Linked DNA regions of Homo sapiens: region 1 is linked to region 2. Evidence: fine-mapped expression QTL. A gene starts in region 2. The other region holds a variant in brackets. All regions are shown on one strand. Distances are from middle to middle. Region 1 has its middle 25 kb from the start of NMI. Region 2 holds the start of NMI (N-myc and STAT interactor).

The links. PIP is the estimated chance that this variant, and not a neighbour inherited with it, causes the effect.
Region 1: its variant is fine-mapped to the expression of NMI in adrenal gland (GTEx, PIP 0.96).

Annotation. Positions count from the first base shown.
Region 1 is chr2:151,311,994-151,317,376 of GRCh38, forward strand. No RefSeq gene overlaps it. Among named protein-coding and RNA genes, the nearest start is that of NMI, 25 kb to the left of the region's middle. The variant T/A (reference allele first, on the strand shown) is at 3,252.
Region 2 is chr2:151,287,261-151,292,643 of GRCh38, forward strand. NMI (N-myc and STAT interactor) reads right to left here and starts at 2,408. Exons shown (of 8, transcript NM_004688.3): 1 at 2,333-2,408. RefSeq lists enhancers at 957-1,126, 1,927-1,976, 1,997-2,046, 2,437-2,516, 2,577-2,996 and a silencer at 2,177-2,376.

The DNA of each region.
Region 1 (5,383 bases), 25 kb after region 2:
GCCTATCACCCCATGGTGCCAAAGCCATATACTCTCCTATCCTCAATACCTCCCTCCACAACCCCTCCATAACCCATTATTCTGTTCTGGATCTCAAACATGCTTTCTTTAGTATTCCTTTGCACCCTTCATCCCAGCCTCTTTTTGCTTTCACTTGGACTGACCCTGACACCCATCAGGCTCAGCAAATTACCTGGGCTGTACTGCTGCAAGGCTTCACGGACAGCCCCCATTACTTCAGTCAAGCCCAAATTTCTTCCTCATCCATTACCTATCTCAACATAATTCTGCATGAAAACACACGTGCTCTCCCTGCTGATTGTGTCCGGCTAATCTCCCAAACCCCAACCCCTTCTACAAAACAACTCCTCTCCTTCCTGGGCATGGTTAGGTACTTCCGCGTTTGGATACCTAGTTTTACCATCCTGACTGAACCATTATATAAACTCACAAAAGCAAACCTAGTTGACCACACAGATCCTAAATCCTTTCCCCACTCCCCTTTCCATTCCTTAAAAAACAGCCCTAAAAGTTGCTCCCACACTGGCTCTCCCTAACTCATCACTCCGTTTTCATTACACACAGCTGAAGTGCAGGGCTGTGCGGTCGGAGTTCTTACACAAGAGCCAGGACCGCTCCCTGTAGGCTTTCTGTCCAAACAACTTGACCTTACTGTTTTAGCCTAGCCCTCATGTCTGCGTGTGGCAGCTGCCACTGCCTTAATACTTTTGGAGGCCCTCCAAATCACAAACCGTGCTCAACTCACTCTCTACAGCTCTCATAACTTTCAAAATCTATTTTCTTCCTCACACCTGACACATATACTTTCTGCTCCCCAATTCCTTCAGCTATACTCACTCTTTGTTGAGTCTCCCACAATTACCATTGTTCCTGGCCTGGACTTCAATCTGGCCTTCCACATTATTCTGGATACCACACCTGACCCCCATGACTGTATCTCTCTGATCCACCTGACATTCACTCCATTTCTCCTTATTTCCTTCTTTCGTGTTCGTTACCCTGATCACACTTGGCTTATTGATGGCAGTTCCATCAAGCCTAATCACCACTCACCAGCAAAGGCAGGCTATGCTATAGTATCTTCCACATCTATCATTGAGGCTACTGCTCTGCCCCCCTCCACTACCTCTCAGCAAGTCAAACTCATTGCCTTAATTCGGGTCCTCACTCTTGTAAAGGGACTACTCATCAATATTTATGCTGACCCCATATCCTGCACCACCATGCTGCTTTATGAGCTGAAAGTTTTCCTCACTACACAAGGGTCCTCCATCATTAATGCCTCTTTAATAAAAACTCTTCTCAAGGCTGCTTTACTTCCAAAGACAGCTAGAATTATTCACTGCAAAGGCCATCAAAAGGCATCAGATCCCATCACTCAGGACAATGCTTATGCTCATAAGGTAGCTAAAAAAGCAGCTAGCGTTCCAACTTCTATCCCTCACGGCAGTTTTTCTCCTCATCTAGTCACTCCCACCTACTCCCCAACTGAAACTTCCACCTATCAATCTCTTCCCACACAAAGCAAATGGTTCTTGTACCAAGGAAAATATCTCCTTCCAGCCTCACAGGCCCATTCTATTCTGTCATTTCATAACCTCTTCCATGTAGGTTACAAGCCGCTGGTCCGCCTCTTAGAACCTCTCATTTCCTTTCCATCGTGGAAATCTATCCTCAAGGAAATCACTTCTCAGTGTTCCATCTGCTATTCTACTACTCAGGGATTGTTCAGGCCCCCTCTCTTCCCTACACATCAAGCTTGGGGATTTGCCCCCACCCAGGACTGGCAAATTGACTTTACTCAACATGCCTCGAGTCAGGAAATTAAAATACCTCTTGGTATGGGTAGACACTTTCACTGGGTGGGTAGAGGCCTTTCTCACAGGGTCTGAGAAGGCCACCATGGTCATTTCCTCCCTTCTGTCAGACATAATTCCTCGGTTTGGCCTTCCCACCTCAGTTTCTGAGGCTCTTGGTATTTAGTGGCTCCTGGTTTTACCTCAAATCGCCACCCTTAAGTCTATCTAGAAGTGGATAGAAGATCTTCAGTGATAAAGTACCCTCCAATACTTTCACCCTGATGAAGTCCTATTCTTTACTTTTATACTTACTCTTATTCTCGTTCCCATTCTTATGCCACCCTCTACCTCTCCCCAGCTATCTCCACCACACTATCAATCTCAGTCACTCTCTCCTAGCCCTTTCTAATCCTTCTTTAACAAACAATTGCTGGCTTTGCATTTCTCTTTCCTCCAAATTCGAGGAGGCCCTAACTTACTCACTGCTAAAAAAAAAAAAAAAAAAAAAAAAAGGTAGGGGGGACTCTGTATATTTTTAAATGAAGAAGGTTGTTTTTACCTAAATCAATCTGGCCTGGTCTATGACAACATAAAAAAACTCAAGGATAGAGCCCAAAAACATGCCAACCAAGCAAATAATTATGCCGAACCCCCTTTGACACTCTGTAATTGGTTGTCCTGGGTACTCCCAATTCTTAGTCCTTTCATACCTGTTTTTCTCCTTCTTTTATTCGGACCTTGTGTCTTCCAAATAAGAGAATAACAATGCTCCTTCTAACAACCCCACAATATCACTCCTTACCCCAAAATCCTTCTTCAGTTGAATATCTCCCCCTGTAAGTTCCCACGCCACCCCAATCCCGCTCGAAGCAGCCCTGAGAAACATCACCCATTATCTCTCCATACCACCCCCAAAAATTTTCACCGCCCTAACACTTTACCACTATTTTGTTTTATTTTTCTTATTAATATAAGAAGACAGGAATGTCAGGCCTCTGAGCCCAAGCTAAGCCATCATATCCCCAGTAACCTGCATATATACATCCAGATGTCCTGAAGCAACTGAAGTTCCACAGAAGTGAAAATAGCTTAACTGATGACATTCCACCATTGTGATTTGTTTCTGCCCCACCCTAACTGATCAATGTTCTTTATAATCTCCCCCACTCTTAAGAAATTTCTTTGTAATTCTCCCCACCCTTGAGAATGTACTTTGTGAGATCCACCCCCTGCTCCCAAAACATTGCTCTTAACTCCACCGCCTATCCCAAAACCTATAAGAACTAATGATAATCCCACCACCCTTGCTGACTCTCCTTCGGACTCAGCCCACCTGCACCCCGGTGAAATAAACAGCCTTGTTGCTCACACAAAGCCTGTTTGGTGGTCTCTTCACACAGACTTGCGTGAGACAACCCTCACAGGGGAACC[T/A]GAAGGTCTAGATCACAGGAGGAGATTCTGACATTAACTGCAGCTGAGTCAATTTAGAGAGCTGAGTGAAATACAGGGGTAGAGGAAGCAGCGGGATAAGCCCTGTGGGCTCTCTGGGTCTCCGGGGAAGCCATTTCTGCCTTGCCTCACAGGAGTCCTTGGGGAGGGCTGCCAGAGGAACTGGGAAAAGACCACAGGGAAAAGGAAACCTCCAGCTGAACTGTGTAACAATTCCAACAGAATGCAAAATCTCCTGGCCAGAACTCCGGGGAGGGAGTGATTCTGGTGTGCAGACTCCAAAAGCAGGCAGACACGAAAGCCCTGCTTGCTTTTGCAGCTGGGAGACTGGTAGCCTGCAGCAAGTTCTCAGCCCTGCTCGCCCACTGCTGGAAACAGACTTGGTGCTGTTGGGAGTCGGGGGAAAGGTGGGAGTGAGACCAGCCTTTTGGGTTGCATGGGAGCTGGGTGAGGCCTGTGACTGCCAGCTTTCTCCCACTTCCCTGACAACCGGCATGACACAGCAGAGGCAGACATAATCCTCCTGGGAACATTACTCCATTGACTTGGGAACCACACTCCCATCCCCCAAAGCAGCCGCAGCCAAGACCTGCCCAAAGACAGTCTGAACTCAGACACTTCTAGCCCTTCCCCGACCTGATGGTCCTTCCCTATGTACCCTGCTAGCTGAAGACAAAGGGCATATACTCTTGGGAGTTCTAGGCCCCTACCCACCACCTGATCCTCCCTATAATACCACAGCTGATGCTCTCTTGAAAGCACCACCTCCCGGCAGGAGACCAACCAACACAAAAATAGAGCATTAAACAACCAAAAATAAGGACCCTCACAGAGTCCATTTCACTCCCCTGCCACCTCCACCAGAACAGGTGCTGGTATCCACGGCTGAGAGACCCACAGACGGTTCACATCACAGGACTCTGTGCAGACAACCCCCAGTACCAGCCCAGAGCCTGGCAGACCTGCTGAAGAGCTAGATCCAGAAGAGAGATAATAATCATTACAGCTCAGCTTTCAGGAAGCCATATCCATAGGAAAAGGGCAAGTACTACATTAAGGGAACACCCCATGGGACAAAAGAATCTGAACAGCAGCTTTGAGCCCTAGACCTTTCCTCTGACATAGACTATCCAAATGAGAAGGAACCAGAAAAACAATTCTGGTAATATGACAAAGCAAGGCTCTTTAACAGCCCCAAAAAATGACACTAGCTCACCAGCAATGAATCCAAACCAAGAAGAAATCTATGATTTGCCTAAAAAAGAATTCAGAAAATCAGTCATTAAACTAATCAAGGAGGCACCAGAGAAAGATGAAGTCCAAGTTAAGGGAATTTAAAAAATGAGGCCAGGTGCGGTGGCTCACACTTGTAATCCCAGCAATTTGGGAAGCCAAGGCGGTCGGATCACCTGAGGTCAGGAGTTCAAGACCAGCCTGGCCAACATGGTGGTGAAACCCCGTCTCTACTAAAAATACAAAAATTAGCCCAGCGCTGTGACAGGCACCTATAATCCCAGCTACTCAGGAGGCTGAGGCAGGAGAATCACTCGAACCCAGGAGGCAGAGGTTGCAGTGAGCCAAGATTATCCCATTGCACTCCAGCCTGGGGGGACAAGAGCAAGACTTTGTCTCAAAAAAAAATAAAAAAATTAAACAATACAAAGCTGGGCACGGTGGCTCACTCCTGTAATGCCAGCACTTTGGGAGGCCGAGGCGGGTGGATCACCCAAGGTCAGACATTCGGGACCAGCCTGGCCAACATGGTGAAACTTTGTCTCTACTAAAAATACAAAAAAATTAGCCAGCCATGGGGGGCAGGTGCCTGTTATCCCAGCTACTTGGGAGGCTGAGGCAGGAGAATTGCTTGAACCTGGGAGGTGGAGACTGCAGTGAGCCAGGATCACACCACTGCACTCCAGCCTGGGCAACAACAGTGAAACTTTGTCTCGAAAAAAAAATATATATAAAAAAGCATACACGAAATGAGGGGAGAAATCGTCAGTGAAATAGATAACATAAATAAAAAATAATAAAAGCTTCAGGAAATAATGGACGCACTTAGAGAAATGCAAAATGTTCTGGAAAGTCTCAGCAATAGAATTGAACAAGCAGAA
Region 2 (5,383 bases):
GAGACGATATATATATATAAGTATATATATATTTAAACCACATCTCTCTCTCTCTCTCTCACACACATACACACACACACACACACACGCATACATATATACATATATATCGCTATTGTATCAACAACTGCAAAATCTTCTTAATGGTCAGCCATGGTCTGATACATTCTAACTCCAACTCACTTTCCCGTCCTATTTAGTCAATTCCTCAACCCAGTTCCCTAACCACACTGAACACTTGGATAGTTCCTTTTCTTTCCTCTGTCCCTCAAACTGTCACATCCTTCCTCCTCTCCCAAACTTAATCTCCATCTAATGAAATCTTACTGTTCTTCAAGGTCCATTCCAAATTTTCCCCAAGCTCCCGAAGCCTTTTCTGATTCCCCCAAAGGATGTTACTCCCCCTCCTTTATCTCCTTTGCGGCGCTTTAATTACGTGTGTACCTATGTCATTTTCCGTGACACATCAGTAAACATGTTGAGGGCTGGGACCATGTCTACTCCTCCCTGCAGACATTCAGAGCACTTTCTCAGTATAAGCTTACACACTGAAAACACTCCATTTAGAGAATTATGTGGTATCTTGACTTAAGTATTTGTTGTACTCAGGACATCACATGTATATGAAGTCCTCTTATTACATTTCAGAAGACAGAAACTGCAATGTTATTTAATTGCTTTTTATTTTTATTATTGTGACAATGCCAATATTCCAAGAGCCTGTAATAAAGGCTCTCAGCATAAATGGTCTACTATCTAACACCACCAGAACCCTTTTGGCATCTTTTGCATCTGGATACTTTTGCTCTATGCATGAGTGGGATGTATGGTCATTCCTTTTATGCAATCATGTAGTAGGCAAAACAATGGCTCCCTCAAAGATGTCCACATCTTAATCCCAAGAATCTGTGATTATGTTAGTTTATATTGCAAAGGAGAATTAAGGCTGCAGATTGAATTAAGGTTGCTAATCAGCTTGCTTTTAAATATGGAGAGCATCCTGGATTATCTGTGGGAGCCCAGTGTAATCATGAGGCTACTTAAAAGTGAAAGCGGAAGACAGAAGAAGAGTCAAGAGTGAAATGTGACCCCGGAAGAACTTTCAGAGGCGCAATGTTGCTGGCCCTGAAGATGGAGGAAGGGCTGCTGAGCCAAATAAGGTAGGTGGCCTCCGGAAGATGGAAAGAGGATTCACCCCAAGAGCTTCCAGAAAGGAAGGCAACCCTGCCAACACTTTGATTTTAACCCAGTGAGACCTCAGTAGGACTGCTACAGAATCCTAAGATAGTAAATTGTGTATGTGAGTGTGTGTGTGTGTGTGTGTGTGCGCGCGCGCGCGCGTTCCTATGTGTTTAAGCCACTAAAGCCATGTAATTTGTTATGGCAGCGAATTAAAAAAACTGATACAAATCAACATCACCGTATTTCCGTAATACAATCATATAACTGCGGTGCCAGGCCGTGTAGAATCGAATCTTCCTATATGCATGCGTGGCAGCAAAAAGAAAGGCAATAGAACGTCTGCCTGTTGTACAGACTGGAAACACAGTATTCTCCTTCGGATGTCTCCTTCAAGAAAAACCTTGCCTATTCTGACACGCCAGCCATGACTGCACAACACTGCCCCTACCAAGAATCGTTTTCTTAAGAAATCCGTTTTCCTAAGGACTATCTCCAGAGACACTCGGAGAAAACAGCGAGGGCCGGGCGCGGTGGCTCACGCCTGTAATCCCAGCACTTTGGGAGGCCGAGGCGTGCGGATCACGAGGTCAGGAGATCGTATCCATCCTGGTTAACACGGTGAAACCCCGTCTCTACTAAAAATACAAAAAAAAAAATTAGCCAGGCGTGGTGGCGGGCGCCTGTAGTCCCAGCTACTCTACTCGGGAGGCTGAGGCTGGAGAATGGCGTGAACCCGGGAGGCGGAGCTTGCAGTGAGCCGAGATCGCGCCACTGCACTCCAGCCTGAGCGACAGAGCGAGACTCCGTCTCAAAAAAAAAAAAAAAAAAAAAAAAGAGAGAAAACAGCGAGGAAACACAAATAACTTTATGTTTCAATTTCCTCAATGAAGCAAAGCAAACAAGTGACAAGGCTCGAAGCCCTGACGGCCCAGAGACTGCACAGCGGGCCCAGGAGCAGGTGCGCCCCCTCGAAGGCGGCGTGGCCTCCGCGACTCGGCTGCGGGCAGCTCCCGGGGAGCAGGGTCTCAACTCCGGCGCTGTCCCACTTCCGTCGGCGCTGAGGGCTCCCACCTCCCTTTCCACCCCCGGCTCTCCAGCCCGGGACTGCCAGCGGCGGGAGTGGCAGCCGGGGAAGGGACTCCCCACTCACCCGCGTCCGCCCGCCGAGCGCAGCTCCCCAAGGCCCAGCGCGCCTGCCCTTCCCGGAAAACAGCAGCGCCTGAAACGCCGGAACCCCGGGAGGCACTGGGAGGGGAAGGCCCGGGTTCTCGAAACTGTCGCTGCCTCCTGCAGAAGCGCCGCGGGAGAGCTGCGGGGTCTTCCTGAGGAGGTGGCCCTCGCAGGAACAGCTGGGTTCCCCGCGAAAAGAAAAAGACAGTGAAAAAGAAAACTGCTTTAACGGCGATTTTTCTTTAGCATTTAACCAATGCTCAAATACTAAACATGGTTGTCTCCAATGATTAGTCACTAACAGAAAAAAAAACTAATTTCACTTTCGATTTTTAAAAAGGGGTGGTTTTGCGGAGGAAAGCAGAAGTATACCTGAAGTTTCCGTACACACTAATTTTAGGGAACGCTTTCTAAAACCAGTTTTTTGCATGTATTTTATAAGGTATGTTGGAAAAGTGGATAGAAACCAAATAAAGTCAAAGCAGGAATCGCTCTTCATCAGATTGTAACTCTTTTGTAATTTCTTAGTCATTGTAACACTAGTTGACAAATGTTTACAGTCAGCACAAGATCGGCGTTTCTGTGTCTTTTGTAACATCCCCCGGGGCCATGAAGTTGGGAAAGCTGTGGTGTTCCTGTTGGTTTCTGTGACCCATGTCCCTTGAAAGTTTTCTTATAATCTCTTGTTTTGTTGTGGAGCTTGTAAATAAATACTTCACTAGGTGTGAACTTTTCCTTTGAAAATTCAAACATCTGGTTTATTTCAAGAACTGCAGTGTCTCTTAATCCCACACAAAGAACCACCCCACAGCTGCCCCGGCTCATAAATACAGATGTGGGAAGAAAATGAGTCAAAATTATTTCAAGGCATAAATTATAGGTTATCATGCTACCTAGTCACATATAATAACTGATACAGTGGTCTAAAATAGTTTAACAAAAGTAAAATTTCTTTGTATCAAAAAGGTTGATGGGAACCAGTTTAAAGTGGTGACATTTCTCTTTTTTTTTTTTTTTTTTGAGATGAGTCTTGCTCTGTTGCCCAGTCTCCAACTCCTGAGCTCAAGCAGTCCTTCCACCTCCACTCCCAAGTAGCTGGGATTACAGGAATTCACGACCGCACCCAGATTTTTTGTACTTTTAATTTGGGTGCTGGGGGCAGGTATCTAACTGTTTCCCAGGCTGATCTTGAGCTCTGGCCCAAGTGATCCCACCACCTCAGCCTCCTGTAAAATGGCATTTCTAAGTAAAAAAAACGACTTCTTTGTGCTTATCAGACCAGTTAGAAAATACAAAAACTCCTTCTGCTGCAACTTGAGAAAGAATTACTTTAGTTTTACCTTGAAATTTTAGAGGGAATATGAACTCTCGAGGTTATTTAGTTGAACCTCATTTCTTCTTATTTTTATTTTTTACAAGAAGATACTAAAGGACAGGACCATGGCCAGAACAGGACTAACTTAATATATTGACTCAGATTCTGTTTAAAAGGCAAATGATACAGGTGGAGGGGAAGTCTTTTTGGACACCTACATTCTAAAGCTGAGACATGTACTAACAGTCTGAATTTAACTCAGCTTCAAATCTGGTATTCTGCAAAGTGTTAGAGATCTGAAGATGAAGAGTTGGCTCCTGGACATACTATTAATAATTGTAATTGCTAACATCTACTAAGAACTCCTGGACATTTTATAAACCTTTTTGTTTTGCCAACAACAATATTAGATATAGGTATTATTCCCATTTCTTTTCACCTGTCTGAAGCAGGCAGGAAGGTATTATCCCCATTTTGCAGTTGAGGAAACTAAGGCATAAAGAGGTGACCCAAAATCAAGCAGTTAATATATGGTGACAATGATATCATACTCTACTCTCAACAATATCTCCAAACTGTGTCCTAGGGTACATGGAGAACATGGAATTTTATGGCCCAATACAATTAGGAAATGCTGCATTCTGAATCCACTTTTGGAAATTCACAATGCACATTGGCACATTAAGAGTTCCAAGAAGTATTGCAGGGAAAAATTAAAAATTTGTGCATATTAAAAATTTTAACTTTATTCAACCTTGAACTTATCAAATCAATTTGAGCGATATATTCTTTTTTTCAAGGAACAGTTATTAAAATCTTGGGGAGTTTCTGATGGGACCTTTCGAGGAATGCTCTAGTAAATTACGCCCTCTCCTAATATAAAAGTTATTTATTGATGTTATCATGCACTCAATAAATATGTTGCACATGAGCTGCAGCACTCTGTGCCTTGGATATCTCATGTAAATCTACACAGATGTGAGGTGAATATTATGTTACACATTTGTCTCCCTGACTACATGGCAATGAACTCCTCCCAGGCTTTCTATAAAGACACACACACACACACACACCAGTATTACATACAGTCTAATGTGTGTTGGAAGGGGTAGGATACCAGAAGTAGTAAAAAACAAAGGAGAGCGTAGTCCCCTCTACCTGAGGAGGTCAGGGAAGTTTCCTTCACAGAAGAGGTGAAAATTGAGTTGATTCATTAAGGTAGAGAAAGTAGACTGAGAAGAAAGATCGGGTGAAAAATCTCAGAGGGATGTGCAATGGACTAAATGTTTGTGTTCCTCCAAAATTCGTATGTTGAAATCCTAACCCCCAAGGTGACAGTATTAGGGCTGGGGCCTTTGGGAGATGATTAGGTCATAAAGGGTGGAGCCTAAATGAATGAGATTAATGCCCTTATCAAAGAGGTCCAAAGGAGTTTGTTGACCTCTTCTGCCATGTGAGGACACAGACAGAAGGTAATCTATGAATCAATAAGCTGGCTCTCACCAGACACTAGATCTGCAGGACCCTGGATCTTAGACTTGCAGCTTCCAGAACTGTGAAAAATAAATTCTGTTGTTTATAAACTACCAGTTTATGATGTTTTATTATAACAGTCCAAAAGGACTAATATAGCATAAAACAAATGGGAGGCACCAAGAGTTTAGTGATTATGCAAACTATGAGAAAGCTACCTGATATCTATTACATGATGATTCT